2 separate regions of the Homo sapiens genome follow, and region 1 is linked to region 2. The links come from fine-mapping of genetic effects on gene expression. A gene starts in region 2. The other region holds a variant in brackets. All regions are shown on one strand. Distances are from middle to middle. Region 1 overlaps BCAS2 (BCAS2 pre-mRNA processing factor). Region 2 holds the start of DENND2C (DENN domain containing 2C).

Region 1 (16,675 bases), 110 kb after region 2:
TCAGGAGAATCCCTTGAACCCGGGAGGCGGAGGTTGCAGTGAGCTGAGGTTGCGCCATTGTTCTCCAGCCTGGGCAACAAGAGCGAGACTCCGTCTCAAAAAAAAAAAAAAAGTGAAGGTTAGTGTTATAGCTCTGGGTGAACATGTGTATACATTTAAAATAAAATCTTCTAAGAGAAGTTTTACATTGAGTAATTTTTTTCTTTTCTTCCCCCCCATTCTAGTTGGGTATCCCTGGTCAGTAAGAATTATGAGATTGAACGGACTATTGTTCAGCTAGAAAATGAAATCTATCAAATTAAGCAGCAACATGGAGAGGCAAACAAAGAAAACATCCGGCAAGACTTCTGAAAAGACAATTTAGCAGGTAGAAGAAAAGTTGGGCTTTCACAAAAGGCATCTGAACTTTTAATGAACTTTGAAGGACAACAGCATCTTCCCAAAACCATTGATGTTTAAGTGTTTAGAAATCATAGAAGGTGTAGGCTGCTGTGGTAATTCTATTTGTATATCTCAACAGAATTAAAATGTCTAGCTTGGTGGTATTTTTATAGCCATAAAAGAAAATCTTTAGGCTTTCAAAATAAGGATGACTTTAGAATAATATTGTGTCATAGAATTAATTTTCAGCCATGTGGACCATATTTTGTATCCAAGGATCCTTATTTAAAGCTTTCAACATGTACAGGAAGTTGGAAATTTTTGGTTTATGACTTTGTCTAATAAAGAGATAGTTCTAAACACATTCTTGATCACCAAACAACTTCAGAAAGACAGTGACTGTACAGTTATCATTATCATCATCATCGTCATCATCATAGGTAACAGTTATATCAAGCTTAATATGTGCTGAACATTGTTCTGAACACTTTAGGTAGATGAACTAGATGTATGTGAATAAAAATTATTTGGTCCTCACAAAAACCTCAGGAGGCGGTTACTGTTTTTCTCATATGTGGACATGTAACAGACACCAGTTAAATAACATAACTTGCCAGAGTTTTATAGCTGAAAGTGTCAGCTTTTTTATAGAAAGTTGTCAGTCAGGTTTTGAACCCAATAGTCCAGCTCCAGAGTTAATGTTCTTACTTCTCTACTTGTAAGGAATTAAATTGTGTAAAAGATTCCTGCCCAATTCAGAAAAAATATTTGCAACATATCAAAAGGTAGTGTTGCTAGGTGTGGTGGCTCACGTCTGTAATCCCAGTGCTTTGAGAGGCTGAGGCAGGAGGATCACTTGTGTCCAGGAGTTCAAGGCCACCATAAGCTATGATTGTGACACTGCACGCCAGCCTGGGTGACAGAGCAAGACCCTGTCTCAAACGAAGCAAGGTAGTCTTAATGTATAAAGACTGACTGAAAATTATTGCAAGGTCAGTGGCTCACACCTGTAATCCCAGCACTTTGGGAAGCTGAGGTGGGCAGATCACGAGGTCGAGAGATCGAGACCATCCTGGCCAACATGGTGAAACGTCATCTCTACTGAAAATACAAAAATTAGCTGGGCATGGTGGCATGCGCCTGTAGTCCCAGCTACTCGGGAGGCTGAGGCAGGAGAATCGCTTACACCCAGGAGGCAGAGGTTGCAGTGAGCCGAGATTGCACCACTGCACTCCAGCCTGGCGACAGAGTTAGACTCTGTCTCAAAAAAAAAAAATTACTGAGAGGTGTTCATCTCAATAACTGATAAATATAAATTTGAAAAATCTAAAAATTATTTTTCAATTTTGAAAAAATAAAAGGATGTTCATTATAATACAAAATAAACCTAGAACTTTTTGATCTGTGATATTGATAAATGGTTAGTACTTTCGAAAGTACCTTAATACAATTGAGAGCCCCATTTCTTTTTGTTTGTTTGTTTTGTTTTGTTTTGCACTTGTTGCCCAGGCTGGAGTTCAATGGTCTGATCTTGGCTCACCGCAACCTCCACCTCCTGGGTTCAAACAATTCTCCTGCCTCAGCCTCCTAAGTAGCTGGGATTACAGGCATGTGCCACTTCGCCCGGCTGATTTTGTATTTTTAGTAGAGACGGGATTGCTCCATGTTGGTCAGGCTGGTCTCAAACTCCCTACCTCAGGTGATCTGCCCAAGTCAGCCTCCCAAAGTGCTGAGATTACAGGTGTAAGCCACCACGCCTAGCGAGAGCCACATTTCTGTGTTGAAGATAGGGATTGTAGGAATGAACGCATATGGAGTGTTGTCATCCATCTCTTCATTGCCCACCCTCGAACTTCTCTCAGAAGGAAATTGGAAGAGTTGTGGAGTATCTGACCAGCCTAAGAGAAAAGACCTACTACAGTTGTTGAAATTGAGAGTTTCCCAACAAATGACCAAGCCAGGACACAGAGCAGAGAGGCTCAACAAACCACCCCGCAACCAACACAGCTTCTAAACCGTGCTTTAGCTCCCGACTTTTAAACATGAATAGACAGTTGAGGATCACCAGATAAGGCAGTTCTACATTGTGAAAGATAAGGAGTAAAACAAATCTGGGAAAGACTATGGAGAAATAGATGATGCAAGAAGAAAAAAATTGTTTTTAAGAAATATATCCTCAGGTTGGGTGTGATGGCTCATGTCTAAATCCCAGCACTTTGGGAGGCCAAGGTGGGAGGATAACTTGAGCCCAGAAATTTGAGACTAGCCTGGGCAACGTAGTGAGACCCCCATCTTTACAAAAAATAAAAGAATTAGCCAGACATGGTGTTGTGCGCCTATAGTCTCAGCTACTTGGGGGGCTGAGGGAGGAGGATTGCTTGAGTCCAGGAATTCAAGCCTTTAATGAACTATGATTGTGACACTGCACTCCAGCCTGAGTGACAGAGCCGGACCGTGTCTCAAAAAAAAAATCCTCAGAGGAGATACTGCAGCCATAATAATATATAAGATGTTATTAAGAAACAGAACAAAACAGCTTGTCGAAATTAAAAAATATGGTAGCAGGAATTAAAATTCAATGGGAAAGTTAGGAATTAAAGTTGACACACTCAAAGAAAGTGGAGGCAACAAAGACAAACATGGAAAACAGAGAAGAGAAAATAGGAGGACTGGTCTGGAAAGTCAGTAGCCGAATAACCTGAGAAAACAGGAGGGAAGAAGTCATCAAAATAATTCAGAATTTTCCAGAACTGATTGATTGATAGAATTTCCAGAGTCAAAAGGTCACTGCACAATGGATGAAAATAGACCAACTCCGGAGCATGTTACTTGTGAGATATGAGAACACCCAAGCACACGAAGATTCTGCAGGCGTGTAGGGGGGACGGAGGGGCGGATTGTTACATATAAAGGATCAAGAATCAAAATGTCTTCACGCTTCTCAACAACATCTTTGGAAGCTAGAAAGAAGATAATGTAGAAGTGCCTTTGGAATTCTTACAAAAAATTATTTCCAACCTAGAACTCTTTACATAGCCAAATTATAAGCCAAGGGTTATGGTAGAATAAAGACACTTGGAGATATATGAGATCTCAAAAGCATTTACTTCCTGAATATCATTTCTCAAGGGGCTGCTGAAGGATGTGTGCTCTTCCAGCCAAACACAGGGAAGCAGTGACGGGACTCTTCCAAAGAGCTTGGTGAAGGGCTGTCTGTCAGGATTATATATGTACACTCCGTAGAAGGCAACGGGTTCAGATTGGAACACTGTGGCTCATGAGAGCTGTCATCACAAAGATGGCTGCTATCGTTGTACCATCATTTTACACTGAGAAACAGCCCAGGGGAAAACTGGCCCACAATCTGACCGTGTTCTTCCCCACCACACGCAGGTTATTGGGATGCAAGTGGTGGTTGGTTACATGAGTAAGTTATTTAGTGGTGATTTGTAAGATTTTGGTGCATCCATCACCCAAGCAGTATATGCTGCACCCCATTTGTAGTCTTTTATCCATTGCCCCACTCCCACCCTTTCTCCCGAGTCCCCAAGACTGTGTTCTGTGTTCTAATGAAGTTCCTGTTCCTTCTTTGACCTGCTGGAAATGTTCTACTATGTACCTACTCTTGGAGAGCTTGCAAGTAGAAAATTCATAGGAGTTCATCCCTGAATTTATGCCTGCCAAATGCATGTTCCAGCCTGGCCAGAAACCCCAACAATATTAAGCCCTTTGTTTCCAAGAAATCACTTAAAGCTTTGTTCCCTCACTTCCCCAGAATAGGCTTTGTGACTGTCAGGGAAGCTGAAGCCAGACCAGCTTATTTTTCCTTGGGAGCTTTCATCCAACCATTGAAATTGTGCCTTTTATTTACAAAGGTAGGCTGTGCTTACTTCACAGTTTTTATATTAATTACCTTTCATATTCATTTACATGTAGATAGTTGTGGAAGGCTGCAAAATGGCCCCTAAAGATGTCCAGATCTTAATCCCTGGAACCTGTTAATGTGTTACTTTCCATGGCAAAAGAACTTTGCACATGTGATTAAGGCTCTTAAAGTGAGATTATCCTGGATTATTTGGGTAGATCCAATGTAATCCCAAGGGTCTTTTTTTTTTTTTTTTTCAGGATCTCATAGTAAAGTTTAAGGAAAATGGTGCATGCTAAATTTGGATACATATCAAGTTTTTGGGTTTTTTTTAATATATATTTTTTATTATACTTTAAGTTCTAGGGTACATATGCACAACGTGCAGGTTTGTTACATATGTATACATGTGCCATGTTGGTGTGCTGCACCCATTAACTCGTCATTTACATTAGTTATATCTCCTAATGCTATCCCTCCCCGCTCCCCCTACCCCACAACAGGCCCCGGTGTGTGATGTTCCCCTTCCTGTGTCCGCGTGTTCTCATTGTTCAATTCCCACCTATGAGTGAGAACATGCGGTGTTTGGTTTTTTGTCCTTGCGATAGTTTGCTGAGAATGATAGTTTCCAGCTTCATCCATGTCCCTACAAAGACATGAACTCATCATTTTTTATGGCTGCATGGTATTCTATGGTGTATATATGCCACATTTTCTTAATTCAGTCTATTGTTGGACATTTGGGTTGGTTCCAAGTCTTTGCTATTGTGAATAGTGCCACAATAAACATGTGTGCGTGTGTCTTTATAGCAGCATGACTTACAATCCTTTGGGAATATACCCAGTAGTGGGATGGCTGGGTCAAATGGTATTTCTAGTTCTAGGTCCCTGAGGAGTCGCCACACTGTCTTCCACAATGGTTGAACTAATTTACAGTCCCACCAACATGTGTTCCTATTTCTCCACATCCTCTCCAGCACCTGTTGTTTTCCTGACTTTTTAATGATGGCCCTTCTAACTGGTGTGAGATGGTATCTCATTGTGGTTTTGATTTGCATTTCTCTGATGGCCAGTGATGATGAGCATTTTTTCATGTGTCTTTTGGCTGCATAAATGTCTTCTTTTGAGAAGTGTCTGTTCATATCCTTTGCCCACTTGTTGATGGGGTTGTTTTTCTCTTGTAAATTTGTTTGAGTTCTTTGTAGATTCTGGATATTAGCCCTTTGTCAGACGAGTAGGTTGCAAAACTTTTCTCCCATTCTGTAGGTTGCCTGTTCACTCTGATGGTAGTTTCTTTTGCTGTGCAGAAGCTCTTTAGTTTAATTAGATCCCATTTGTCAATTTTGGCTTTTGTTGCCATTGCTTTTGGTGTTTTAGACATGAAGTCTTTGCCCATTCCTATGTCCTGAATGGTATTGCCTTGGTTTTCTTCTAGGGTTTTTATGGTTTTAGGTCTAACATTTAAGTCTTTAATCCATCTTGAATTAATTTTTGTATAAGGTGTAAGGAAGGGATCCAGTTTCAGCTTTCTACATATGGCTAGCCAGTTTTCCCAGCACCATTTGTTAAATAGGGAATCCTTTCCCCATTTCTTTTTTTTTGTCAGGTTTGTCAAAGATCAGATGGTTGTAGATGTGTGGTATTATTTTTGAGGGCTCTGTTCTGTTCCATTGGTCTATATCTCTGTTTTGGTACCAGTACCATACTGTTTTGGTTACTGTAGACTTTGGGGGCAGGGCATAGCCAAACAAAAGGCAGCAGAAACCTCTGCAGACTTAAATGTCCCTGTCTGACAGCTTTGAAGAGAGTAGTGGTTCTCCCAGCACGGAGTTTGAGATCTGAGAACGGACAGACTGCCTCCTCAAGTGGGTCCCTGACCCCTGAGTAGCCTAACTGGGAGGCACCCCCCAGTAGGGGCAGACTGACACCTCACACGGCCAGGTACCCCTCTGAGACGAAACTTCCAGAGGAATGATCAGGCAGCACCATTTGCTGTTCTGCGGCCACTGCTGCTGATACCCAGGCAAACAGGGTCTGGAGTGGACCTCCAAGGGTCTTTTTAAGAGGGAGGTAGAAGGTGGAAGGTTAGAGAGGAGAAAGGTTGCTAACCTGCAGGCCTTAAAGATGAAGGAAGGGGACCATGAGCTGAGGAATGCAGGTGGTGTCTAGAAACTAGAAAAGGCAAGGAAACAAATCTCCCATCAGAGTGTTGGCCAGGAGAAACTGCTTTGCGGACCCACTTTGTTCTGACTTTCAGAATTGTAAGATGATAAATATGTTTTGCTTGAAACCACCCACTTTATAGCAATTTGCTACGGCACTGATAGGAAACTAATACAATAGTTGGTAAAGAGTGATGATAAATGTTGAGGAAACTAATACAATAGTTGATAAAGAATAATGATAAATGTTTGATTTAACATGGTGAAAAATCTACATATGTTTATTATAGGCAAATCAGAAAATGCAGATAAAAAGAAAATGAAAATTATTCATAAGACTGCCACTCAAGGTACTATGTTTATTTAGTGCCAGAAGAACACAGAAACCACATTTCATTTAATTTCAATACAAATTTGTTGGATACCATAGAATCAAAAATAAGTTGGACTAATGGGACACTCTGTAAACCTGTTCATGAACAGAAGTTTCTATTTCTGTTTCACCCTGCTTTCTACCCTGAGAACTAAGATTTATTATATTAGACCCACTTCACTTCCTCTATCCTTAGAAGTCTATTTCTGGATATTAGAAGTCTGTTTGCAAGTGACAGAAAGCTAACTAAAACTACCTTAAGCAGTAAAGGGGGATTTATTGGTTCATTTAATTTGTAAGCACAGAGGTGGAACTAGCTGCATCGTCAACTAAATCCAGGGATTCCAGTTGGGCATGGTGGCTCATGCCTGTAATCCTAGCACTTTGGGGAGGTTCAGGCAGGAGTTTCAGGCTGCAGTGAGCTATGATCACACAGCTGACTCCAACCTGGGTGACAAAGTGAGACCCTGTCTCAAAAAAAATTTTTTTTCAATAAATAAAATATAAAAAATAATTCCAGAGATCCCGTGTCGTCCTGTTTTTCATCTCTCTGTTTCTCTTTCTGGCCATATTGTCTCCTACAAATAGGCTTCCTCTATACAACAGAGGCCAAAGCCACAGGCAGCTCCAGACTTACATCATCTCAGTTTAGCAGCCTTAGAAGGAAGCAAATATATCAGTATATATTATTTCAGAGGATTTTGATTGATGTGCTCTAAATTTCACGTTCAGTCCTTAGAGTCAGAAGTATAGCTAGGACTTGGGGGCACTGTGATTGGCCAGATATCGATCATATACCTGTAGAATTGAGGGTAGAGTACTATGCTTGGCAGTTGATTGGATTGGAGTAATAGCTCCCCAAAGTAAGATAGGATGGCGCTTCTATCAGGAGAGGAAGTAGTTGGGCAGATAATGACAACATGTCTATTACACCCTGGATCTTACCTGAGTTAAGAGGCAACCCCTTGGCCAGGAGCAGTGGCTCGCGCCTGTAATCCTAGCACTTTGGGAGGTGGAGGGGAAAAGATCACTTGAGGCCAGCAGTTCAAGACCAACTTGGCCAACATAGTAAGACCTCGTCTCTATAAAATAGAGAGAGAGAGGTAACCCCTTTCACTTAGCTGGCCCAGTATGATAAACAGTTCACCCAACTACTCCCTAGGATTTTTTTCTTTCTAAAGAAAAATATAATAGGTTATATTTATTATGGCATAATTTTAGTAGTGGAGAACTGGGATGGTCTGTCTGTTTCATAGTTTGTGCTGGGAAATAGCCATAAAAGTCAATAAGCTGGCTATTGTGGTTTGTTGAGAGATGTGGGCCAAGTAATTTGTTATTCACTGTAACTTAAGATCTGCAGTTTTTAGCTGGGCACGGTGGCTCACACCTATAATCCCAGCACTTTGGGAGGCTCAGGTGAGAGGATCGCTGAAACCCAGGAGTTTGAGACCAGCTTGTGACCTACATAGTAAGACCCCTATCTTAAAAAAAAAAAAATTAAATGAATAAATAAATAAATAACCTGCAGTTTCGTTTTTGTGTTTTGAGACAAGGTCTCTCTCTGTCACTCAGACTGGAGTGCAATGGTGCAATCCTGGCTCACTGCAACCTCTGCCTCCCAGGTTCAAGTAATTCTCCTGCCTCAGCCTCCCGAGTAGCTGGGGTTACAGGCACATGCCACCACGGCTGGCTAATTTTTGTGTTTTTAGTAGAGATAGGGTTTTGCCATGTTGGCCAGGGTGGTCTGAAATTCCTGTCCTCAAGTATTCCACCCGCCTTGGCCTCCCAAAGTGCTGGGATTACAGGTGTGAACCACACCCAGCCAAAACCTGCAGTTTTTAATAACTTTCTTTCTAAATATATCATACAGATTCAAGATGATCCCTATGCATATCTCACTTGGTTGTATTTTTACATGTCTTTGAGAAGGAAAGGGGTAAACCCAGAACTTGTTGTCTCAGTGACTTACTGTAGCAGGGACTACATACTTGCCCCTCTAATATATGTTATCCTCTCCTATAATAATAGAAGTTTTAGCTGGGCATATGGATGCTCAACTAAAAACTTAACTGCTAGCTTCCCATCCAACCATGTACATATGCTGTGTGACTAGGTTGTGTCCAATGAGATAGGAACTGAAGTGATGTGTGCAACTTTCAAGTTCTGCTTTTAGTTACCACATTTTACCAACCAGAAATCTTTTTTTTTTTCTTGAGACGGGGTCTCACTCTGTTGCACAGTCTAGAGTGTGGTGGCACAATCTCAGCTCACTGCAGCCTCAATCTCCCGGGCTCAAGTGATTCTCCCTCCTCAGCCACCCGAGTAGCTGGGATTACAAGCAGACGCCACCATGCCCAGCTAATATTTCTGGTTTTTGTAGAGATGGGGTTTCATCATGTTGCCCAGGCTGGTCTCAAACACCTGGGCACGAGTGACCCACCCACCTTGGTCTCCCAAAGTGCTGGGATTCCAAGTGTGAGCCACCACACTCAGCCAACAGTTTCTCTAACATATTTTTTTTTCTCTAGATCTTAAAAACATTTGGTCAAGGAATTTAGATATGGACTTTAAGGGTACATAATTCAGGATAATAAAAAGCTCAGCTTCATCTTAGCTCAGTGTTCCCTTCTTCCTCCACACTTTACAACTAAATGCATTCAAAGGAATACGCTATTGATGTGTGTACAACAAAGTGGTCTTAAATTGAATTCTGTCAATGGCCATATATATTAGACTTTTGCTTATAATTACAATTAAATTTTACCACTCACTAAAACTAGCCCTAAGAACATCTTCTTAGTCACACTTAAATGTTATTTGGCTTATTTTCTATTTTGGGCTTTTCACTAAGTTTCAAGATCTTCTTTTCAGTCTGCTATCTATTATGCTCTCCTACTTTTAAAAGAGG[G/T]CCTGCTTATTTCCTGTAGTATTCTTGTTTGACCATAGAGGGCACAAGGTCATTAAAAAGTGAAATAAATTACCCATGCAGCAGCAATTTATACCTGCCTGCTTTCCATTACATGACTTGAGAAAATTGAGATAATTAAATTTACTCTGATGTTTCATATATTGAAGGATCCTTGCATTTTTTTCAGAGTTTAAATTTAATCCCACATAGACTTCACTTTTATTGTTAAAATTATGAAGTGCGTCCAACTCACCAGAAGTCTAAAATAATTAGTCCTGCTAAATTGTTAAATTCACACTTTGGAGATTTGTAAAGAAACAGAGCTCTACTTTATATAGAGTAGCAATTACCTTGCCACCTTAAATCTCAATTTCTAACAAAAAATAAACAATAGTGGATACTTATGAGTTCTAGTTATTACAATTCTTTTGGATTACTTTGTTCCATTTTTTTAAATGCAGTGCTAGTATACCAATAACACAGGAAAAACAGATTAGAAAATTAGAAACTACAGTAGCATAAAACAATGAAAATTGTAGCATAATAAATTTTTATCATGAGTAATTATACAAATTCCCAGTTTCCTTCCAAACTCACTGAGTTTAGTCAATTATAAAAAGGGACTTTATAAAGAAATCAACTATCTTTAATACATCAGAGCCTTTTGTGACATAATAGAGTATAACACAATGAGCACATCTTTTTATGTTAATACCAACTAATCAATTGTAATTGGTATAATTACTACTTTGCTATTTTCTCCTAGTATTCATTATTGCTGAATACATAATTACAGCACAGGATATAATTTATTCTTTGGCAATCTGTCAATTACAGACCCAGCATTTTCAATATATTTCCCTTTACAGAATTTGTTGTATTATAAAGAATGCCATATAAACCCATCTATTTCCATATTAAAAATTTGATAATTTCAGTGAGCACTGAATGTTATTTGTCTCTAAAACTGTATCTCTTAATCGTGTTGAGGAAAGTACATTTTACTTTATTTTTTATTATGGTTTTATTTTTGCCCTTTGCAAACAGAGGAAAGGACATTTTTAAAAACCGATGTCATAAGGACAAAAAAGTGATGTAGGAGCCAGGCAGGGTGGCTCATGCCTATAATCCCAGCTACTAGGGAGACTGAGGTGGGAGGATTGCTTGAGCCCAGGAGTTCAAGGCTACAGTGAGCCATGATCATGCCACTGTACTCCAGCCTGTGCAACAGAGCAAGATCCTGTCTTTAAAAAAAAATTAATTAATTAAAAATTTTAAAAGGACATAGACCATTGGAAATATAGACGGACAATTTCTCGTTTTTCACCCTTCATCTTTCCCTCTTAAGAGCTACCAGACGGGCACAGTGGCTCATGCCTGTAATCCCAGCACTTTGGGAGGCCAAGGCAGGTGGATCACGATGTCTGAAGTTCAAGACCAGCCTGGCCAACACGGTGAAACCCCATCTCTACTAAAAATACAAAAATTAGCTGGGCATGGTGGCCAGCACCTGTAATCCCAGTTACTCAGGAGGCTGAGGCAGGAGAATCGTTTGAACCTGGGAGGCGGAGGTTGCAGTGAGCCGAGATCACGCCATTGCACTCCAACCTGGGCAACAAGATCAAAACTCCATCCCCCCCGCCCCCCAAAAAAGCTGCAAGACCAATTGTCTCAGCAAGATGTTTTGCAGGGGTACTTTGATGTTCTGAACACTCTGAGGTAACCATTCTAACAATGCTGATCACTTTATTACCACCAACTTTACAATTTTTTTTGCCCATTTTTATTCCAAGTTTTAAATTTCTGAACTTTGTTCTAAAGCTTTTAAACTAAAGGAGAGTAATGTGCTTAGCTGAGAGCTGCCTGATAGTGTCATAGTTGGTGATTTTTTTTTTAAGTAGTGCTAAGTGCCAAGTATATAGATTAAGATATTTTGGATAAACGCAAAAAAAAAAAATCAAATGGTGTCACAGTTTCTTTGTGATCCAAAACAACACTCTGTAAAATTTCCAGTTGTGGACTACCTCCGTGGAGTACCTGGTGTCTCCAAGAGTATTACTATACAAGACACTGAGCAATGCACTCCATCAACCTATGGTATATCCTGCTAAGACATAGTTACCACCAATTCATTATTTCCTTTTGATTGATATTCCTTACATATGCTTAGCTATTTGTATCTACTACTGTCTCCACAAAAACTGAACTGAATGTATAGTGCCAAAATGGGTGTGCGATTTTAGAGAGTGCAGGTTTTATAAAAGGTAGATCTTGGTGTTCTAAACTACAAATGTCAAAATTGTTAAAGAACATTCCTCACGCCAAAATCTGGGCTCATAAAATGTTTCTACAGTTTAATTGTTAAGTAGCATAGATGAAAAGTTGAGTACCACAGATGAAAAAGTTGAGTAGCATAGATGAAAAGTTGAGTGAAAAGTTGAGTGAACGTAATTATCATGTATGTTTCAGTTTGATTCCCCAGAAAACAGATGGAAATTAGAATGTAGGAAGTTTATTAGGAAGTATTCTTGGGATCAACACCTGTTGAGAGCAAAGGAAGCAGGATTGAGCAGGAGATGAACTGTGCTACACTTGCAACAAAGGCCTCAGCCAGGAGGCTCTGAAGCTAGGGGGAGGACACTTCAAGGTTTTTCTGAACTGGGGTGGGGAGGCTGGGCCTTTGTAAAGCTCATCAACCAGTCATTAATGTGCACTGCTCCTGGTAAGGTGGTGGGACATTAGGCAAAGTGGTTCTGTTCAGCTGAGCGCAAGTCCTGGAGAAGGACTTAGTTGAGAGTTGCCAGCCGTCTACTCTCCCAGAAGGTGGGGGCATGCATGCATGCATCAGACCTGGAGCGAGGTGATCTGGGCAGCACACCACAGCAGCCACTGTAGTGTGAAATTGGCGATGGGAAAACGTATCATAGCGATAGACATTTTGTGCAATAAAAATAGCTATCAATATATCCCGTACAATAAACATCACAAACCTGCCCAACAACCTACAGTAGCTCGCCACTGCTTCCATGTCTATTCTAAGTCCCAACTAAGTTATATAAGTTGATTAGTAAGGTAGGCCTTGTGCTACCTATCTAAAACCTTACTTCCCATGAATTCCCAGCCGAGGTCTTCAAGTTATCAGGTAGGTGAACTCATACCTTTATTTCTGCCCACATTATTCTTCTCTATCTGAATCCAGCCCAAGTCCACTCTCTTCCTCCACGAAGCTTCTATACACATATTATTACACCTTCCTTCTCTGGATTGCAGCCCACAGGCTATGCCACAAAATTCAACCCTTAATTATAAATGATCTCCATCTCCAGTGGGTTTTGTTTGTCCAGTTTTTTTGTTTTGTTTTGTTTCAGTAGCTGTGCAGAGACTAAGCTCCCCAGTAAACCGAAAATTCTTCTAACCAGGCATGGTTGTGCGTGTGTGTAACCCCAGCTACTTGGGAGGCTGAAGTGGGAGGATCGCTTGAGCTCAGGAGTTCAAGGCTGCAGTGAGCTAGGATTGCGCTACTGCACTCCAGCCTAGGTGACAGAGCAAGACTCCATCTCTAAAAACAAACAAAAAACTAAATTAAGAAAGCTCTTCTAGAGTAGGGGTTGTGCCTTTCTTTCCATAGCATCTATCATGTTAATGGGCACATGGTAGACACTGAATAGATTCAAAGGTTTAGAGACAAAAGTGATTTCAGAGATCACTTAGTCCAACCTGATTTTACAGGTGAGTTAACAGAGACTCAGATTAAGTTGTAATCCTACTTTGAACTCCCACATTACTTTGTTTGTACCTCTTTTATGGTATTTATTGCTTTCTGTTTAGTATTTTAATTATCTTCCTACCTGTTTTACCCATCTTTCTCTGTATTTTCATGGGCTATTTCTCTTCTTCTGCCCATTGCTTGAATGCTGGTGTTCCCTAAGGCTCTGTTTTGGATCAGCTAACCTGAGCAATCCATTCCCATAGACTTTAATTACCACCAGTGAAGTGGATGACTCACTAATCTGTATCTTTAGCCATATCTCTCTCCCCAGCAGTATTGCGACTGACAGCTCCACCTGGATGCTCTGCAAGATTCTCGAACTTGACTTGTTGTCCTTGACTCCTCCCTAATCCTTATATCCAACTGGGCACCAAATCCTATTCATTTACTTTGGAAATGGCACACTAATCCTGATCTGTGTATTCACTGCCACCTGTCATGAATTCAGGTCCTCCTCATCTCTGAATCATAGGAATAGTCTCTTCCTTGTTCTCCTTATAAACTTTCTTGTTCTACTAGTTAACCCTCAAAGCTGGTACCAAAGTAATCTTCCCCCAAAATTAATCTAATAAAGCCATTCCTTTGCTTAAAAATCATTGGCTCTTTGTTCCAATTTTTTTTTTTTTTTTTTTTTTGAGACAGAGTATCGTTCTGTTTCCCAGGATGGAGTGCAGTGGCATAATGTCAGCTCACTGCAACCTCTGCCTCCTGGGTTCAAGTGATTCTCCTGCCCCAGCCTCCTGAGTAGCTGAGATTAGAGGCACCTGCCACCAAGCCTGGCTAATTTTTGTATTTTTAGCCTAGACAGGGTTTTGCCATGTGGGCCAAGCTGGTCTCGAACTCCTGACCTCAAGTGATCTGCCTGCCTCAGCCACCCAAAGTGCTGGGATTACATGTGTGAGCCACTGCGCCCAGCCTGTTACCTAAAATTAAAATCTAAACTTCTTACCATGGCATACAAAGTTTTTAAGAGAAAGGCAGATAGTGGCCAGACATGGTGGCTCACACCTGTAATCCCAACACTTTGAGAGGCCAAGGCAGGAGGATCACTTATGCCCAGAAGTTTGAGACCAGCCTGGGCAATATAGTGAGACCCTGTCTCTATTTAAAAAAAATTAAATAAATAAAAGAAAGGCAGATAGTGAACCTAGCAGTGAAGTCAAACTGCCAGGAGTCAAACTGTCATTTAATAGCTATGTGATATCAGACAAGTTTATTTACTTCTCTGTGTCTGTTTTCCAGGTGGAAAATTAGCACAATAATTCTACTGTATCTGATAGGGTTGTTGTAAGAATTACATAAATTATTACACATTAAATGCATAGAACAGTGCCTGGCACATGTTAGATGCTGCTATTATTTCCAAATCTTGTAAATCTCGTCTGCCTGAACCCCTTCCTCAAACCATATTTAAATTTTCAGCCAGACGTGCTCATGCCTGTAATCTCAGGCATTAGAGATTTACACACCTGTAATCTCAACACTTTGGGAGGCCAAGGCAGGCAGATCACTTGAGGTCAGGAGTTTAAAGCTAGCCTGGGCAACGTAGCAAGATCCCGTCTCTACAAAAAAATAAAGTTATCTGGATGTGGGCACGTGCCTGTAGTCCCAGCTACTCAGGAGGCTGAGGCAGGAGGCCAGCTTCAGCCCAGGAGATCAAGGCTGCAGCGAGCTATGATCATGCCACTGCACTCCAGCATGGGCAACAGAGCAAGAATCCACATCTAAAAAAAGAAAAAGAAAAGAAAAAATTTCCTGTTTCTCTACACCCACCATGATGCATCCTTCCATTTTTTACCCATTTTCATGTGCTTTTTTCTTTCCTTGGAATACCTTCCCCACTTTGTTTCTTGATGAATTTATGTTTATCCTTCAAGGAAGAGGTTAAGGATAGTAGGCTCTCTGCAGTCTTCTCCATGATGCAGAGGTATATTCATCTTTATACAAATTTTTTAAGTTGCAGACATTTATCTCAAAATAGAGTAGGCTGGGCATAGTTGCTCACACCTGTAATCACAATACTATGGGAGGCCAAGGCAGGTGGATTGCTTGAGTCCAGGAGTTCAAGAACAGCCTGGGCAACATGGCGAGATCCTGTCTCTACAAAAAATAGAAATATTAGCCAGGCCTGGTGGCATGTGCCGGTAGTCTCACTTACTTGGGAAGCTGAGCTAGGAGGATCACTTAAGCCTGGCAGGTTGGGGCTGCAGTGAGCTGTGAGTGTGCCGCTGTACTGCAGAGACCCTCTCTCAAAAAAAAAAAAAAAAAAAAAAAAAGAGTAACTATTACCAAAAAAAAAAAAAAAAGGATGAAGTTGAGATATATGCTGGTAACAGAAAGATATTTGTGGTAGGCAGTTTCTACAGTGGCTCCCAATTCCTGCCTCCGATATTAACACCGTTGTATCATCTTTTGTGTGTGTGGGCTGGACCTAGTGACTTGCGTCTAACAAGTAGAATATGGCAAAAGTGATAGAGAGTCACTTCTGAGATTAGATGATAAGAGACTGACTTTCACTCTACTCTCACTCTCTGACTCTTGTGTTCCTTCTGATGAAGCAAGCTGCCATGTTGTGAACTGCCCTATGGAGAAGTCCATGTGGCAAGGAACTGAGGGTGGCCTCCAGCAGACAGCCAGAGCAAAACTGCACTCCGTGGTCCAATGGCCTGGGAGAAGGTGAATTCTGCCAACAACATGAGCAAGCCTGAGTCTACTGCAGTCCCAGGCGACACTTTTTCTTTTCCTTTCCTTTTCTTTTCTTTTCTTTTTTTTTTTTTTTTTTTTGAGACAGTTTCACTCTGTCACCCAGGCTGGAGTAAAGTGGCACAATCTCTGCTCACTGCAATGTACGCCTCCTGGGTTTCAAGCGATTCTCCTGCCTCAGCCTCCTGAATAGCTGGGATTACAGGCACCTGCCACCATGCCTGGCTAATTTTTATTTTTATTTTATTTATTTATTTTTTTTGAGACTGAGTCCCGCTCTGTCGCCCAGGCTGGAGTGCAGTGGTGCGATCTCAGCTCACTGCAACCTCCACCTCCCAGGTTCAAGTGATTCTCATGCCTCAGCCTCCCGAGTAGCTGGGATTCCAGGTGTATGCCACCACGTCCTGCTAATATTTGTATTTTTAGTAGAGACGGGGTTTCACCATGTTGGCCAGGCTGATCTCAAACTCCTGACCTCAAGTGATCCACCCACCTCAGCCTCCCAAAGTGCTGA
Region 2 (16,675 bases):
TTGGACTTCTCTCTTGGCTTTGCAGGAGGTAGGTGCGGACCTGGTGGAGGCCAAGTACCAGCATGCTGAGCCCCGCCTGTCCATCTATGGCCGCAGTCCTGATGAGTGGAGCAAACTCTCCTCCTGGTTCGTCTGCAATCGCATCCACTGCCCCAACATGACATGGATGATCCAGGTTCCCAGGATCTAGTATGTACCTGCCCATCAGAAACTCTAGAGCCTGCCCTTGTCTCATCTGCTTCAAGTCCCCTGTATGAACAAGGAACGTGTTGCCCATCTAGAAATAAATCAGCTTTGTTAAAACAGCATTCACTATCGGGTCCTGCATGCTTGGTTTTGTCCACTCTGGGTACAGCACTCTTAACCACAGACAGGAGTTAAGAAGATCATTTCGGATCAGTCCTCTAGCTTTATGAAGATCATAAATAACTCACTGAGAATGATTAAAACTAAGATAGAATAAGAACTATGTACAGTTTGGTATACATTTTCTTTCACCTGGTCTTCTCTGTGTCAAGTCCATTCCTTCCCATGCTCATCTCTACTGGGATGTGGCTTTCTTGTATCAGAACCTTTACTACTGTCTGTCAATTGTCCCACCTACAAGTGCTCAAGTTCTCCACAATCAATGAGTATTTATCAATGGTATTGCTGAGGACATCATCTCCCTTTCATACCACCTGCTATCATTCATCGCCTTCAGGGATGGCTTCTCTTTCAGTTTGTTCAGTATCATTGATCTTTTATCTAACTTGGGTGTTTATATGTTTTCTGGCTACCTGTCTTTGTGTTCTGTGTGACCTACTGCAATGCAAGAGTTTCATCCTGTCTCTTTAACCAAAAAAAGTAATTTTTTGACTGGGATAATACTTCCTAATAGGCAGAGAGGCAGTAGGTTGGTTAGGAGTATAGATTCTGGACCCAGAGTGGTGATACTTGAATCCTGGCAATACTTAAATCAAGGTAACACAACCATTTAGCTGTGTTACCTTGGGTTAAGTTATATCACCCCATTGTGCCTTAGTTTCATCATCTCTAAAACAAGGTTAAAAACAATACCTAACTTATTGAGTTGTTATGAGGATTACATTAGCTAATATTTCTGGTCACTTAGAAGAGTGCTTGGAATATATTAAATGCTATATCAGAGTTTGTTAAATTGCAGATCAGAGGTATTCTTGGTAATCATTTCCTGTTCACTGTCTTGTAGTTACACACATATATTGAAGCTTTTATGACGTAATTGCATATTCCTCTATGAGGACTTAGCTGTGAAGGTTTAGTTTTCTTATGACAAAGGTTTGTAAAAAAGATGGGGACATAGGGTCCACCAAAAAATTTTTATTTCCTATGTGCTGCCCAAACTGAATCCCTCTCTATAGGGGACCAAAAAGAATGTATGAGGAGCATGGACCTAGGATAGATATACCACGTCTTTTCCTGTGCATGACATTCGATTCTCTGGTTCCCTCATACTGGGGCTATCAGTCCTAAAAATCTTTTTTTCTCCTAAATTCTCTTCATTCTTGCCTCTAGTGATGTGTTCCGTTCCAAGAATTTCCTTCCACATTTTGGAAAAATGCTGGAGAATATTTTCATGCCAGTGTTTGAGGCCACCATCAACCCCCAGGCTGACCCAGAACTCAGTGTCTTCCTCAAGCATGTAAGCATGACCCTTCAGGCCTTCATACTGCTGCTCATGAACCAGCCTTCCTACCTGGTCATGACTAATTCTTGGTGCTTATCTCTTTATGTTTGGTCTGTGCCTTTGGACCTGAAAGTTTGTGTGAGGACTGGGACCCTGAAGTTGGACTGAACCCATTGCATGGCTCACTTTTCCTAACAGATCACTGGCTTTGACAGTGTGGATGATGAGTCCAAACACAGTGGCCACATGTTCTCCTCCAAGAGTCCCAAGCCCCAGGAGTGGACATTGGAAAAGAATCCATCTTACACTTACTATGCCTACTACATGTATGCAAACATCATGGTGCTCAACAGCCTGAGAAAGTAAGTAGGAGACAGCTGGAGCTAGGAGGGTCTATTTGACACAGCTCTTTCCACATATATTGGCAATTAAGGTGGTCAGGGGCCTCATGCATTACTGTGATGGTTCCAATTGGCCCAAATCAGAAATTTCTTTCTCTTAACTTTTTTCTTCAGTTTATTTATTTTGGGGCAGAAATCGGTATTTCGATGCTTTCAATAACTTTCACAGTTCCTTTTTTTTTGGGAAGTTTAGGAATTTATACTAATCATTGTGCAATTAATGATAAAACTTCATATATTTTGCCCTTCTTGATATATTTGGGTAAGGAATAAGTAGAGGAATATTATACTGGAGTTTTCTGGAAACATTTCTCCCTTAAAATTTGAATAGAATAGAATAAATGATGAGATGTTGATATTGGTAAATTTCCTATTGAGACTGAACGTATTTCCATCCAGGCAATCAACACTTTATTTGCTTCCTTACCCCCATATCCTCTGCTGCCTCTTTTTGGAAACTTTGTATTTAGCAAGAATTAAGATTATGATTTGGGACTGTTTTGCTGAATCCTTTGGATGGCTTACTTCCTTCCAGAGTGTTCACTTTTCTACTGAATTTTCTTGTGAATCACTCCATACCCAGAACCTGCGATTCCAATAGCAGTTCTATTTCCCCAGGGAACGAGGCATGAATACGTTTCTGTTCCGACCTCACTGTGGAGAAGCTGGAGCCCTCACCCATCTCATGACAGCATTCATGATAGCAGATGATATCTCTCATGGCCTAAATTTAAAAAAGGTGAGTTGGAAGCTCTCTTCTTAACTTTTACATTGGAGCTAGAGGAATCTTTTTTCCCTTAACCAACCATACTGTCACAAGTCATTATCGACACTGCAATCATAATCAAGTAGAGCATAAAAGATTTTTTAGTTTAGTGCAGTTCATTCTACAGAAAGAAGTAAAGGGACTTGCTCAAGATTACCTTGCTAGTTGCTGTCAGATAAAAGTTAACGCAGATCTCCTGACTTCTAGCTTAGAATCCTGACAAGGGATAATTCAGAGATGGCCTGGCTTTCCTTAAGCTAGTTTTTGCCAGATTTCTTGTTATAGCATGCTTCAAGATGTTTTTTTGTGAGAGTCAGAACTTTCTTGTAGAGAGAGAGAGAAAAAATAATGTTTCAAGGCAAAGTCTTTTGCCTGAGACAGACCATCTAACGTAGGCCATTATAGATCAAATAAACAATCTGGTTTGACTCAATGTTTCTGAAAATTAATGTATCCTAAGTACATTTATTCTAAATAGCATTTACATTGAAAAACTCCTAAATTCTCCTTACTAAGAGACTTGAAGAACAAGTGATAATTTTGTTGAAAGCTGAAGCTTAAGGCAGACCATGAGATTGTAGTGTTTCTAGTTTGTATTCCTTTTTCAACATCTTTAAATATTTTTTTACTTTTCTTTTTCAGAGTCCCGTGCTACAGTACTTGTTTTTCTTAGCCCAAATTCCCATCGCCATGTCACCACTAAGTAACAATAGCCTATTTCTAGAGTATGCCAAAAATCCTTTTTTGGATTTCCTTCAGAAAGGGCTAATGATCTCACTGTCTACAGATGACCCAATGCAATTCCACTTTACCAAGGTATAGTATGGACTTGGGCAATACAAGCATATTTTGCTGGACTGTTGTTTCCCGTCCAGAATTTGAAAGTCAAATAAAGGTATTTCATTATTTTTTCAGGCAGGATGCATATTATTTATTAATTCACTCCTCTTTTTTCCTCATTTAATATAACTGCAGGAGCCCCTAATGGAAGAATATGCTATTGCTGCACAAGTCTTCAAGCTGAGCACCTGTGATATGTGCGAAGTGGCAAGGAACAGTGTCTTGCAGTGTGGAATTTCTCATGAGGTAGACCTGTCTTCAAATGGCTTCCCTTCTGAGTATAGGGTCTGCTAACTTGAATACCGAAAAAGTAGTTGGGAAACACATGTAGAAAAATTGTTCCACGAATCATATGCAGTTACTATGGACAGGGACTAGAAGGGATTATTCTATCTCTTTGCCTGTGCCTTTTGGGCCAGGGAAGTAAAATACACTTGATTTCTCAGCAGACTGTGAACACTGAGGCACTAGATGGGTGCTTTTAATGGTCTATTATTATTATTCTTTTGTCAGTGGCTAACATAAGGAAGGAATTTTTGTAAAGAATGCAATTATTGTCTATACCAGGGTGAAAAGAGACAACAATCATTCTGCCATCCTTTTCTCTTATAGGAGAAAGTAAAGTTTCTGGGCGACAATTACCTTGAGGAAGGCCCTGCTGGAAATGATATCCGGAGGACAAATGTAGCCCAAATCCGCATGGCCTATCGCTATGAAACCTGGTGTTATGAACTCAATTTAATTGCTGAGGGTCTTAAATCAACAGAATAAAAAAAAGTAAACCAAATAATAATATGAGTGAGAATTTCATTGTAGAGTTTGAATAATAATAGTTACCTGTTATTGAGTCCCTACTATAAACCAAGGAAAGTATTAGATGTTCCACTGAAATTATTTCATTTAATCCTTCTCACAACCTTTATAAAGTAGATATTATTATCTCCATTTTGGGGGAAATTAGTACACTAAAGCTAATAAGGTTAATAACCTGCACAAGGATATACCTGGTGAAGGGTAGCAGTGGGAACGTGGGTTTCTCTGACTGCAGTCTCTATGACTTTCAGGCAAAATATCTATTAAAGCTGGGCAAAAATACAAGCAAATGACTTTTTGGGAGATAGGCTTCTGGTTTATAGCATGAAATTTGCTTAAGGCACTTAGAACCACTAAAAAGTTCTTTGACAAGGTATAAGTGAATAGTGGCTTTTTTAGACAAAACCAGAGGGCGTACCTCAATATAGAAAATCAGTATTTATGAGTTATTATATTGAGGGAGAATTTATCTTACAAAAGGATTCTTAGCTTTAAGGATGTAATTGACAATAAGATTATAGTGAGCTAAACTGGTACATTTTAAATGATTTTGCTTACCAAAGTAAAATGTACATATAACTTTTAAGAAGCATGCCTATTACTTAAGGTCAGGTGAAATTCCAAATGGGCAGATGATACTTCCACACATACAACTGTGTTGGCATCTAGTGGCTGGGCTGACATTTCATTCAACTTATTCAATAAACAATTATTGATCAAATAGCTAAATTATCAGGTACTATTCTAAACACCAAAGGTATACAGAATAAGATTTCATTCCTATCCTCTAGTTGTCCTCAGCATGAAGTTATAGTGTGGCTACAAGTAAAAAATAGAATTTTGTGAAATGTCTTCAAAAGTAATGAACTTTTTTCTTTTTTTTGAGACAGGGTCTTGCTCTGTCACCCAGGCTGGAGTGCAGTGCAGTGGTGTAATCACAGTTCACCGCGGCCTCGGCCTCCCAGGCTCAGGTGATCCTCTTACCTCAGACTTCCGAGTAGCCAGGACTACAGGCACATGCCACCACACCCAGCTACTTTTTTGAACCTTTTGTAGAGACGCGGTTTCACCATGTCACCCCAGCTGGTCTCAAACTCCTATGCTCAAGCGATCCATGTGCCTTGGCCTCCCAAAGTACTGGGATTACAGGCGTGAGCCACTGTGCCCAGCCTGAACTTTCAAATGGAAAAAAAATTGAAAGCAAATTTCTGCACGTTTCTATATTCTACACATGCAGCCATAAGCATAGGTGTAACCCTGATGGCATGTTTGTACTAGCTCTGGTGTAAGAATCTCTTCCTGATTTCTGAAGTTGAAGTTTTGTTTGTTGAGTATTTGTGAACCCTTTAAAGAACCAGATTTTATTTTACCTTGGCCTCCTCATCATCAAAATAGTACAAATTGCTACATTAAACACTGTATTCTCAGACTTCAAAGGGCATTAACTACCATTATGTATATCTCCATCTTACCCATGAGAGGGCAGTAGAATACATACATGTGAATTCATTTATTAATCTATAAATTTGGTTTCATACGTGATACTTGGAATTCAACCTGCCTTATTTTGCCAAATAATCTTCCTGAATGCAGGGGTCAAAAAATACATTTCTGGGCTGGGTGCAGTGGCTCATGTCTGTAATCCCAGCACTTTGGGAGGCTGAGGCAGGAGGACTGCTTGAGCTCGGGAGTTGGAGACCAGCCTGGGCAACATAGCGAGACCCTGTCTCTACAAAAAAATAAAAATAAAAATATTAGCCGGGGGTGGTGGTGCATGCTTATAATACTAGCTGCTTGGGAGGCCGAGGTGGGACGATTCTTTGAGCCTAGGAAGTTGAGACTTCAAGTGAGCTATGATTGGGCCACCGCACTCCAGTGTGAGTGACACAAAGAGACCCTGTCTCAATAAATAAATAGATAGACACATTATATAAGAATTTTTTTTTTTTTGGTGGGGGAAGCCCATAATGATCAGTGTGCAAAATTTACTACAAACAATATCCACATTTATTTCCTCATTGGGACATGATTTTTTTTAAGTATGTCATTACTTTTTTTTCCCCCATCATAGAATGTAATTTCTGTTTTACTGTCTACAGGTGATAGTTTCACAACGGTTTGGGATATGCTACCTTTATTGTTTGGGTTAAGTTTGCTTGTGACAGTCATCCGTGATACGTAACTAAACACCTCTCTTTCTGGTAGTCTTCTATTTTGGTACCTCTGTGTGAACAAATGTAGGAAGAGTTTGGTCACCAGACCCAAGAGGCTCTGGCTGGGTGGGGTGGGGTGGGGTGGGGCGGGGCGAGGCGGGGTGGGGTGGTTAGCGAGTGCCTGGGAAACAGGCTCAACTGATCCTTGTCCCGCAGCCTCGGTGAAACTGGGTTACAGCTTGCAGTAGGCACAACACCACGCACATACCTAAGCAAGAGCGTGTTGCAGGCGGAGCGCTTAGGCATGTGTGTCTCAACAGGGCGTGGGGGCTGACCTCACGCACTGGGAGTATCAAGGCACCCCCGTTCTGAGATTCCAAGCCTGAGGTGCCGCGAGAGTTATTTGCTTCTCTTGACGTTTCAAGTTGGCACCGTAGTGCAATTGTTTGCTCACTGAGGTCAGCCTAGGAAACAGTGCTTGGATTCCCTGATTAAGCCAGGCTTTATCTTGTTGAGTAGTTGTGAAGAGTAAACCTTCACATGAAGCATAGGGCCGTCTCCGTGGGGCCGATGCGACGGCAGGCGAAGGCGATGGAGCTCTGGCTCGAGGGCTTGGCCGGACGACGGTGACACTGGTCGCCCGCCTGCTGGAACTGCAGTGACCGAGGTCCTGGCAAGGTTCTGGCCATACAGCGGACTTGAGGCGTGGTGGTTCCCCTCACCGCCGGCCGGGGCGGTGTCGGAGGCGGGCATAGCGTGAGGGGTGGGAATAGGAGCCAATAAGAACTGAGCCTTGCCAGGGAGGGCGGGGCTAGGGGGTGGGGCTGCAGCCGGGACGGGGCCTTCGGCAGGGCCTGCGGGGGCGGGACGGAGCGGACCCGAGTGATACCCGGGAGACTAGCTTGGCCACAGGAGACAACGTTGAGGTACAGACAGGTAAGAGTCGGGGTGATTCGGCGCGGGGTTTTAAGCCGCAGGGGCTTCGGACTCTCGGGGCTGTCGGCATCACCCTTCTGGGCGTCGGGTGCGGGGCTGTGGCGCCGCGGCGTAGTCCTCGGACGGTGCGAGCCGAGCTGGCGGAGGTGGTGTCTCCGCGCCCCGCTGTCTCGGCACCTCCTCCGTCCGGAGGAGCAACCGGTTGTTGGGCCCAGCTTTGGGACGTCCTCTCGTGGCCGCACGGGTTGTGGCGGAGCCTGGCTGAAGACCTCCTCGCTACCTCAGGGGCTTGGGGACCCCTAGGCTGGGCGCCGCTCTCTGCTGGGGAAGAGGGAGGGAGCGCCCGGCAGCCTGGGGAAACGCGGGCTTTCTCCAAAATTAGCCAGTGAGCTTGAACTTCGACATGCTGGGACGATGCACTTCCAAACAATATTTTGCTTTTTTTGGTGTTTTGATTCTTAACAGCATCTAATACGCACAATACCGAAAGTTGTCAAGTAGAATTTTAATTTAAAAGTCTGACAGTGGAACACCTAAGAGCTTTTGAGTAACTAGAGCTGTATAGCAGCTGATGATTAGATTATGAGTCAAAAGGCTCAAGTCTAGGGCCAGAACCCGCGGAACCAGATGTGATACCTCGGCCAAATTAACTTCCTGGGCCTCTCTTTCCGTAACTGTGAAACTGGCAAGTTCATGCCTATGGGTATTCTCAGGGTCAAATCAGATGAGTGACAGTATTCTACAAATGTCAGATATTTGAACGTGCGTGTGGAGCGTGTATATTCTGTGAAGCAACTACTACTTGCCTGGTACATAGTAGGCACTTTACAAACGTTTACCCTAAAGCTAGTGATTCTTCTGCAGTGTTTTAGATAAAGTGATAGATCCTTGCTTACTGTGTAAATAAGTTGTTTAAACTTTTCCCACAAAGTGACCCCCATTGTTTGAGTGTGTCCTATTTTTAAATGATTGATGAAATTTTCTAGAATAGCACAGTGGTGTTATCTATACACTGTTGCTGAATCATTTACCGCGAAGTCTGTAGCAATCAAATAATCTACTTCTTTGTCTTAGCTAAATAGTTGTAGTTTAAGATACCTGCTAAAGTAAGCTGGGAATATTGTTCCAAATCAAGACTTTAATTTGTTTTTGTGAATTGACGGGCTGCTTATAGGAAGATTTAAATCTTCCAAAATATTGTTAATATATAGCCATATTTTTTCATACAGCCTTTATTATAGACGTTTTTGTTCTTTACTATGGATATGTGTGCGAGGGATTTTAGCGGGGAGATGGGAAATAAAAAAGAAAATGGCAGTTTTGTAACCTGTAGGCTTTTGCTGGGGATACTTGTAGGCCTGTTCTGAGTTTGCCAGGCAGAAACCAGGAAATGTAGTAATTATGTGTCTTGGTCTTTCATTAGTTGGGGTGTGTGTGTGTGTGTGTGTGTGTGTGTGTGTGTTGAATGTGGCAGTACGTTTTTTAAATGCAGCAATAAAGGAAGAATATTTATTTTTCTTAATGACAATAAGCAGTTTTCTAAAGCTGGAAATTATATTACTTTTAAATGGTCTGTAGTGAGTCTTAAGTTATAGGCAAGAATTTTAGACCACTGGATACCAAGATCAAATTAAATGAAGTAGTAGAGGGAAAGTTACTAGTGAATGTAATTTTTGTGTGTGTTGCTTTAGAAGTTTTACTTAAACATGTTTCAGCAATTCAGTGGAGGATGGGTCTTTTGAAGCTACTTTAAAACATGAGTTTTAAACGTACTCCATGTATAAATTTTTCTGTGATTTACAATTTCTTGATCTTGGAGGTCTGAAACCTTACATTCACATTGTTTTTTGAGGGCCTACTACACAATAGGCACAAGATTATATTTATGTAAGAGCAGTATGTAATTCCTGTCATCTAGGAGATTCCATTCTACCAAGTGGGCTAAAATAAGTACTGAAAAAACAAAAGCTGTTTTTAAAGCGGATGGTAACAATAACAACATCAGCTATCATTCATTGGTACCTAGTCTGTGCCAGGCAGTATTCTAAATTCTTTACATGTATTAGCTTACTTAATCCTCACAACAGCACCATGAGGGATGTTATTATGATTATCTCATTAAGAGGCATAGAGAGGTTGAGTAACTTGCCCATGATTAGACAACCTAGATAGCAAAAGTAGGATTCAAATCAGTCATTCTCCAAGGACCTGATTGTAACCTTTGCGCTATACTGAGTTTCAAATTCTGTGAGTGAGATACAAATGACATCTAATAGGTATTTTAAAAAGAGGTCTATAAAAAACTATTTCAAAAAGAAGGAAAGAAAGAGGAAAAAATAAACTGGTATTGCAATACCAGTTTTATTGCAATTAAAACGATGTAATTATAGTTTATCTGTGGGAACCCTTTTTTTGTTATTGTTGCCAGTGAATGACATGGGGATGATTCTAAGCTCTCAGTCCCTCAGTAACAACAGTTATGGCATTATCTTAACAATATGAGGTGCTTATTTTTCATTAAAAAGCACCTCATAACTTCTTTCATTAAGAAGTTAAAAATATCTGTTCTCAGACTGTAAATTAAGTATTAGATTCAAGAAGAGAAAATGCTTCCCTGTCTTTAAGAAGCTTATAACCCAACATGTAAATAAGGCTCTACAATTTCAGCATGATAAGAGCTGTAAAGAAGTATAGATTTAGGTACGTTTGAAGAGTTGCAAGAAAAAGAAAGAAGTATAGATAGAATTTAACCACTGATGAGGAAAAATCATTCTGCGTGTGGTAGGGAGGACGATTAGAGAGAAGATATTAAATTTGGCTTTGAAGGATGAATAGGAGTTTGCTGAAATTGGGTCAGGAAACAGGAGATATGAATGAAAACCAGGGATAAGTGTGCAAGTATATGGTATGTTTGAGGAATGTGTTGTAGTCCATTGTACTGAAGGCCAGGGTGTGTAGAAATGGGTGGTTTGGCTAAAGGAGATGGTGCCTGGAAATAAGATGAAAAAATAAAATTGCAAAGCTTCCTTGCTGATTGCATTAGGATCACTAAAATTGCTAGGTAATGTGGTATTTCACTTCCCTTCATTTGGAACAATGAAATGAGTAATTAGTTCAGTTTGGCAGAATGTTTCACTAAAAAATATGGTGTTAAAGGTACTTTTAATACTTTGAAGTACAAGATATAAGATAACATTACAGACTTAGGTAAGTAAAAAGTTAAGATTTAGGGCCAGGCGTGGTGGCTCATGCCTGTAATCCCAGCACTCTGGGAGGCCAAGGCAGGTGGATCAAGAGGTCAGGAGATCGGGAGCATCCTGGTCAACATGGCGAAACCCCATCTCTACTAAAATACAAAAATTATACGGGTGTGGTGGCGTGTGCCTGTAATCCCAGCTACTTGGGAGGCTGAGGCAGGAGAATCATTTGAACCAGGGAGTCAGAGGTTGCGGTGAGCTGAGGTCGTGCACCTGCACTCCAGCCTGGCAACAGAGTGAGACTGTCTTTAAAAAAAAAAGTTATGATTCAGAAAAAGAGGGAAAAAAGTCTTCTGATGCTAGGTCTTGAAGAGCCAGAGTATCGTGCTAAGGACTTTGGACTTGATTCTAAAGACAATGGAGAGCCAGTGAAGGATTTTAGATATAGGTGTTTAGGAAAGATAAGCTGAAAATGGTTTGGAGGCTGAATTGGATGAAGAGAGACAAAAGGTAGGGAGATAAGTTAGGAGGCTGTTGCTATTGAAATAGTCCAGATAAGGGAGGATAGGGGCCTGGAGTAGGAAAATAGTAATAGGGATGGAGAGGAGAGGATAGATAGTGAAGGTGTAGAATTTGACAGGGCTTTAAAATCAATTGGCTCAAAAGAGGAACAGAAAAGTAAATGACTTAGTTTTTTAGCTTGGAAAACTGTTTGGATGAAGGGTCTTGTTTTATTTTTTAATATTGGAGGAAGATAATTGTTTCCATTTTGAATTCATGTTGAGTTTGAATTGTCTTTGGAGCATTCAAGTGGAGATGTCGAGAGAGGATCTAGAGTCCAGAAGCCAGGCTAAAATTGGTGATTCAGATTTCAGAGGTAGCCAGTAAGTGTTAATTGAAGCCGTAAGAGCAGATGAAATTGCTCAAGGGAGTATGTAGAATTAGAAGAGAAGAGGGCCAAGAATAAATGATTTGCTTTATGTAAGTAGAAGGAATTATTTATCTATGCTAATTTTGTCCAACAAATTATTATTATAAAGCAATGAAATGGATTTTAATTGAAAGTTGAACAACTTTTACATCCAAATGAGTCCTGTTCTTTTAAAATTTCATTTGGAAGTCACTCATTTATTCCAGAAGTACAGATGCTCCTCAATTTTCGATAGGGTTATGTCTGAATAAACCCATCATAAGTTGAAAATATTGTTAGTCAACATGTGATAAACTTACGAAGGGTTTATCCGAATGTAACCCCATCATAAGTTAAGGAGGGTACTGAGCACATACTGCTTTGGCACCATCATAAAGTTGAAAAATTGTTAATTTAAACCATCATTAAGTCAGGGACTGTCTGTATTGCCCAAAGTATTATTGGAGCTTCTCTTTGTAAAAAGCTTTATAGCAAATTCACAGCTACACAAGAACGTAGATCTTCTGGCTTTATTATGGAATTGTTTTTCTGTCTCTTTATTTGCATGGCACATATAACTTATTTACTTTTTTTTTTTTTTTTTCAAGAGACAGGGTCTTGCTCTGCTACCCTGGCTGGAATACAGTGATGCAATCATAGCTCACTGCAGCCTGGACCTCTTGGGCTCAAGGGATCCTCCTGCTTCAGTCTCCTGAGAAACTAGGACTACAGGCATGCACCACCACCCCCTGCTAATTTTTATTTTTTATTTTATTTTTCTTGAGACAGAGTCTCTCTCTGTTGCCCAGGCTGGAGTGCAGTAGTGTGATCTCAGCTCACTGCAACCTCTGCCTCCCAGGTCCAAGTGATTCTCCTGTCTCAGCCTCCCAAGTAGCTGGGACTACAGGCGCACACCACCATGCCTGGGTAATTTTTTGTATTTTTGGTAGAGATGGGGTTTCACCATATTGATCAGGCTGGTCTCGAACTCCTGACCTCAGGTGATCCACCCGCCTTGGCCTCCCAAAGTGCTGGGATTACAGGTGTGAGCCACCACACCCGGCCTGACCCCCTGCTAATTAAAAAACAATTTTTTTTGCCCAGGCACAGTGGCTCACACCTGTAATCCTAGCACTTTGGGAGGCCAAGGCGGTGGGTCACTTCAGTCAGGAGTTTGAGACCCACCTGGCCAACATGGTGAAACCCCATCTCTACTAAAAACACAGAAATTAGCTGGATGTGGTGGCGCGTGTCTGTAGTCCCAGCTCCTTGGGAGACTGAGGCAGGAGAATCACTTGAACCCAGGAGGTGGAGGTTGCAGTGAGCTGAGATTGTGCCATTGTACTCCAGCCTGAGAGACAAGAGCGAAACTCTCCATCTCAAAAAAATTTAAATAAATAAATAAATACATAAATTTTTTTCTTTTGTAGAGATGGGGTTTCACTGTGTTGCCCATTCTGATCTTAAACTTCTGGGCCTAAGCACTCCTTCTGCCTCAGCCTATCCAAGTGTTAGGATTACAGGCATGAGCCACTGTGCCCAGCTTCCGTTCACAATCAATCAAAGCTTCGAAAGCATATTCCTATCCCATCACTGGATCTTTAGTTCTTGGAAGTCATAGACAAAGCTTAAAAAACAACAAAAGACTGTGTCCCCATGCCTATAATCAGCACGTTGGGAGGCCAAGATGGGAAGATCACTTGAGCCCAGGAGTTCTAGACCAGCCTGAGCAACATAAGGAGACCTCGTCTCTACAAAAAATTTTAAAAAATTAGCTGGCATGGTGGCACATGCCTGTGGTCCCAGCCGCTTGGGAGGCTGAGGTGGGAGAATTGCTAGAACCCGGGAGGCAGAGATTGCAGTTAGCCAAGATCGTGCCATTGCACTCCAGCTTGGGTGACAAGACAAAAAAAAAAAAAAAAAAGAATAGCAGTATGGTCTTCTAAGGCAGGGGTTAGCAAATATTCTGTAAAGGGCTAGATAGCAAATATTAATATTTTGTACTTTGTGTGCCATACGGTCTCTGTCATAACTACCCAATTCTGCCAAAAAGCAGCCATAGACAACGCTTCAATGAATAAGCATGGACTGTGTTCCAATAAAACTTTATTTATGGACACTGAAATTTGAATTTCATATAATTTTCACATCACAAAATGTTATACTTATTTGATCTTTCCACCCAACCATTAAAAAATGTAAAAACCACTCTTAACTCAGAGGCCTTGCAAAAACAGGCAGTGGGCCAAATTTGGCCCACAGGTAGGCCATAGTCTGCCAACCTTAACGGATCTTTGAAATATTTGAATTCGTAAGCTTGGTTTAGAAAAAAAAAATCATGGTTCTTCGAAATCATACCTCCTGTTTTTAAATTCTAGTACATTTCTTAAAATAATTAAAACATTTTCATTCATCCCCCATTTCTCATTTAAATGGAAAATACTCCCTTTACTGGTTTGGAACTTTAGATACAGAGAAATAGATTAACTTGTACAGAGTCAGAATAAAAAAGTATGTTTGAAAAATGTTTTTTGATATTCAGTGTTCTTTACTGAATCAATAAAACATTGATCTTTTCGCTTCAGTGAAAGTGGGGACATTGAAACCTGGGTGAAATAAAAGATAAATTTGAAGGGGTATTCTGCACTGGTTCCCAGAGGGTTGGACAGGATGGAATTTTATTCTCTTTTTCTTCTGCCCTGAATGAATAAGTTTTATCCTAAAGAAAAGAAAACATGATAATGTCTTCACTTTATAAGCAGTATAGCAAATTATAAGACTGAAGGATTAAGTAGATGATGATAAGAGAAAAAAATTTAAAGGACTGACTTTTTCACATCTATCTATTCCAGGTATTTACCCATTTTTTTCCTTCCTCCCTTTCCTTTTCCCTCTTCCTTCTTCCTTTTCCTTTTCTTTTCTTGGTCTTTCTCTGTCACCCAGGCTGGAGTGCAGTGGCACAATCATAGTTCACTGCAGCCTCCAACCCCTGGGCTCACACGATCCCTCCACCTCAGCCTCCCAGTTAGCTCGCATTACAGGTGCACGCCACCAAGACTGGCTAATTTTTTAAAAAACTTTTTGTAGAGATGGGGTCTCAATACGTTGTCTAGGTTGGGCTTGAACTCCCGACCTCGGGATCCTCCCATCTCAGCCTCCCAAAGCGCTGGGGGTACGAAGCCATTATGCCTGGCCCCTATTTTTGAGGAATAAATTCAAGATTTTTTTTTTTTTCTTATGAATCTTAGACTTCTGGTTAGTGGCGTGAAAACAGAGTTTTTAGCATTTAGTTCTGGCAATATTAATCCATTTATATTATTTGAAGGTTGTGCTGTACTTTTTAAAGTTAAATGTCTAACTTTCGTAGTTTTCATAGCAGTGATAAATATTTACAACAAAGGATATGGAGAGAAATTATTATTTTTTTTCCTTCAAGTTTGAATTCATAGAAATGACATATTTGCGGATTTTTTGTTTGGATGTTAAAATTCAGGGACAGATTGGTGGGGGAGAGAGAGAGTTATTTTTGCTGCTACTTAAAAGGGATTTGCATTTTTCTCTGTCTTTTTTTCTGTTGGAGTAAAAAACAAAATCTCCCAGCTGTGTGGGATGTGTTTGAATTGGTTACTTAGCAGTGTAAAGCATAATTTTGTATTTAAATATTTATCTGTACTCTTTGATATTCTGATTAAATAAGGATCTATTAAGGCTATAATAATAGAGCCTTCTGTGAGGAAATGACATAGGCTGCTCCACAACAGTATTTACTGAAAATTTCCTTTTCCCTGGGCCCTATTTAAACTATAAGGGGTAATTGGAACAAAAGGGGAAAATTATGTGAATTAGAGTGATGGTCAATTTAATCATGAGTGTAATGTGATAGCTATCAATGTATAGTTTTATTGACATAAATCAGGGTTGAGCAAAGAGTGGGAGAATTTTGTCTGCTGTTGTTAAAAATGGTGAGTCGTTGAACCAAATTTTATTTTTGAACTTTGCATTCGTCAAGTGTGATATTTTCAAGAGTCTGGTGATAATTGTATTTTTAAATCAAATTGGATCAATTTGCCTTTCAAATTTGTTGTTTCATTATTAGAAGAAAAAAACGAAGTAAAAAATACAGAGGTATGTGCAATGACTGGATCTGGAAGAACAAAAATATTGAGGGAAATGGTCACCTGAGAAAAACTATTAAGACTTTCAATGAAGATTATTTAAAATATGGCTTTGTCAAATGGGCAAAATCTGAGTAAAATGACAGACCCATGTCTTCATATAATGTTGCAAATGAAAATTAAAAACCTTTAAAGTTAAAAAGATTCTTGGAAACATAGCATACTGGACTTTTAAATAAGCCCTTTCAAATATTTTCAAAGAAAGAAAAAGAGATAAAGTTATCTCAGTTTCCTATTTATTCAAGAATCATTCCTGAGAAAGATTATTGTCTCATTTAGTTGTGTATCAGTGGCATAAGGGAAAAATGGCTACATATCTCTTGAAAAAAGTATTCATCTATAATTCATGGAAGTTGTGCTCATGATTTTTGATGCTAAATCAGCTGGAAATTAAAAATTATACTTCTTAGTGATGACATAGCTCTATTCTTTACCATTATTGGACATTTCAGCAGTGCTTGCAAGATGGGTAGAGTCTGGTGCAGATTTTGCAATCCAAATCGATGGGGTCGCTGATATTGTAAGTTGTACTGTGCTTTTAGGTAGTGAAGATAATAAGGAGGATTTTCTTTTCTTTTTTTTTTTTTTTTTTTTGAGACGGAGTCTCGCTCTGTCGCCCAGGTGCACAGTGGCACAATACCGGCTCACTGCAACCTCCGCCTCCCGGGTTCAAGCGATTCTCCTGCCTCAACCTCCTGAGTAACTGGGATTACAGGTGCGAGCCACCATGCCCGGCTGATTTTTGTATTTTTAGTAGAGACAGGGTTTCACCATGTTGGTCAGGCTGGTCTCAAACTCCTGACCTTGTGATCTGCCTGCCTCGGCCTCCCAAAGTG

Evidence for each region. PIP is the estimated chance that this variant, and not a neighbour inherited with it, causes the effect.
Region 1: its variant is fine-mapped to the expression of DENND2C in whole blood (TOPMed, PIP above 0.99). The same link has a PIP of 0.9 or more in T cells and blood mononuclear cells.

What each region holds. Positions count from the first base shown.
Region 1 is chr1:114,551,806-114,568,480 of GRCh38, reverse strand. It overlaps BCAS2 (BCAS2 pre-mRNA processing factor), which reads left to right. Exons shown (of 7, transcript NM_005872.3): 7 at 225-924. The coding sequence ends at 351. Among named protein-coding and RNA genes, the nearest start is that of BCAS2, 21 kb to the left of the region's middle. The variant G/T (reference allele first, on the strand shown) is at 9,690.
Region 2 is chr1:114,660,865-114,677,539 of GRCh38, reverse strand. DENND2C (DENN domain containing 2C) reads left to right here and starts at 7,491. Exons shown (of 21, transcript NM_001256404.2): 1 at 7,491-7,557. It overlaps AMPD1 (adenosine monophosphate deaminase 1), which reads left to right. Exons shown (of 16, transcript NM_000036.3): 10 at 26-189; 11 at 1,537-1,663; 12 at 1,847-2,010; 13 at 2,668-2,788; 14 at 3,458-3,631; 15 at 3,791-3,901; 16 at 4,268-4,442. The coding sequence ends at 4,426. LOC124904354 (a long non-coding RNA gene) reads right to left here and starts at 7,129. Exons shown (of 2, transcript XR_007066465.1): 1 at 6,890-7,129; 2 at 6,586-6,691. RefSeq lists an enhancer at 7,118-7,277 and a silencer at 7,398-7,487.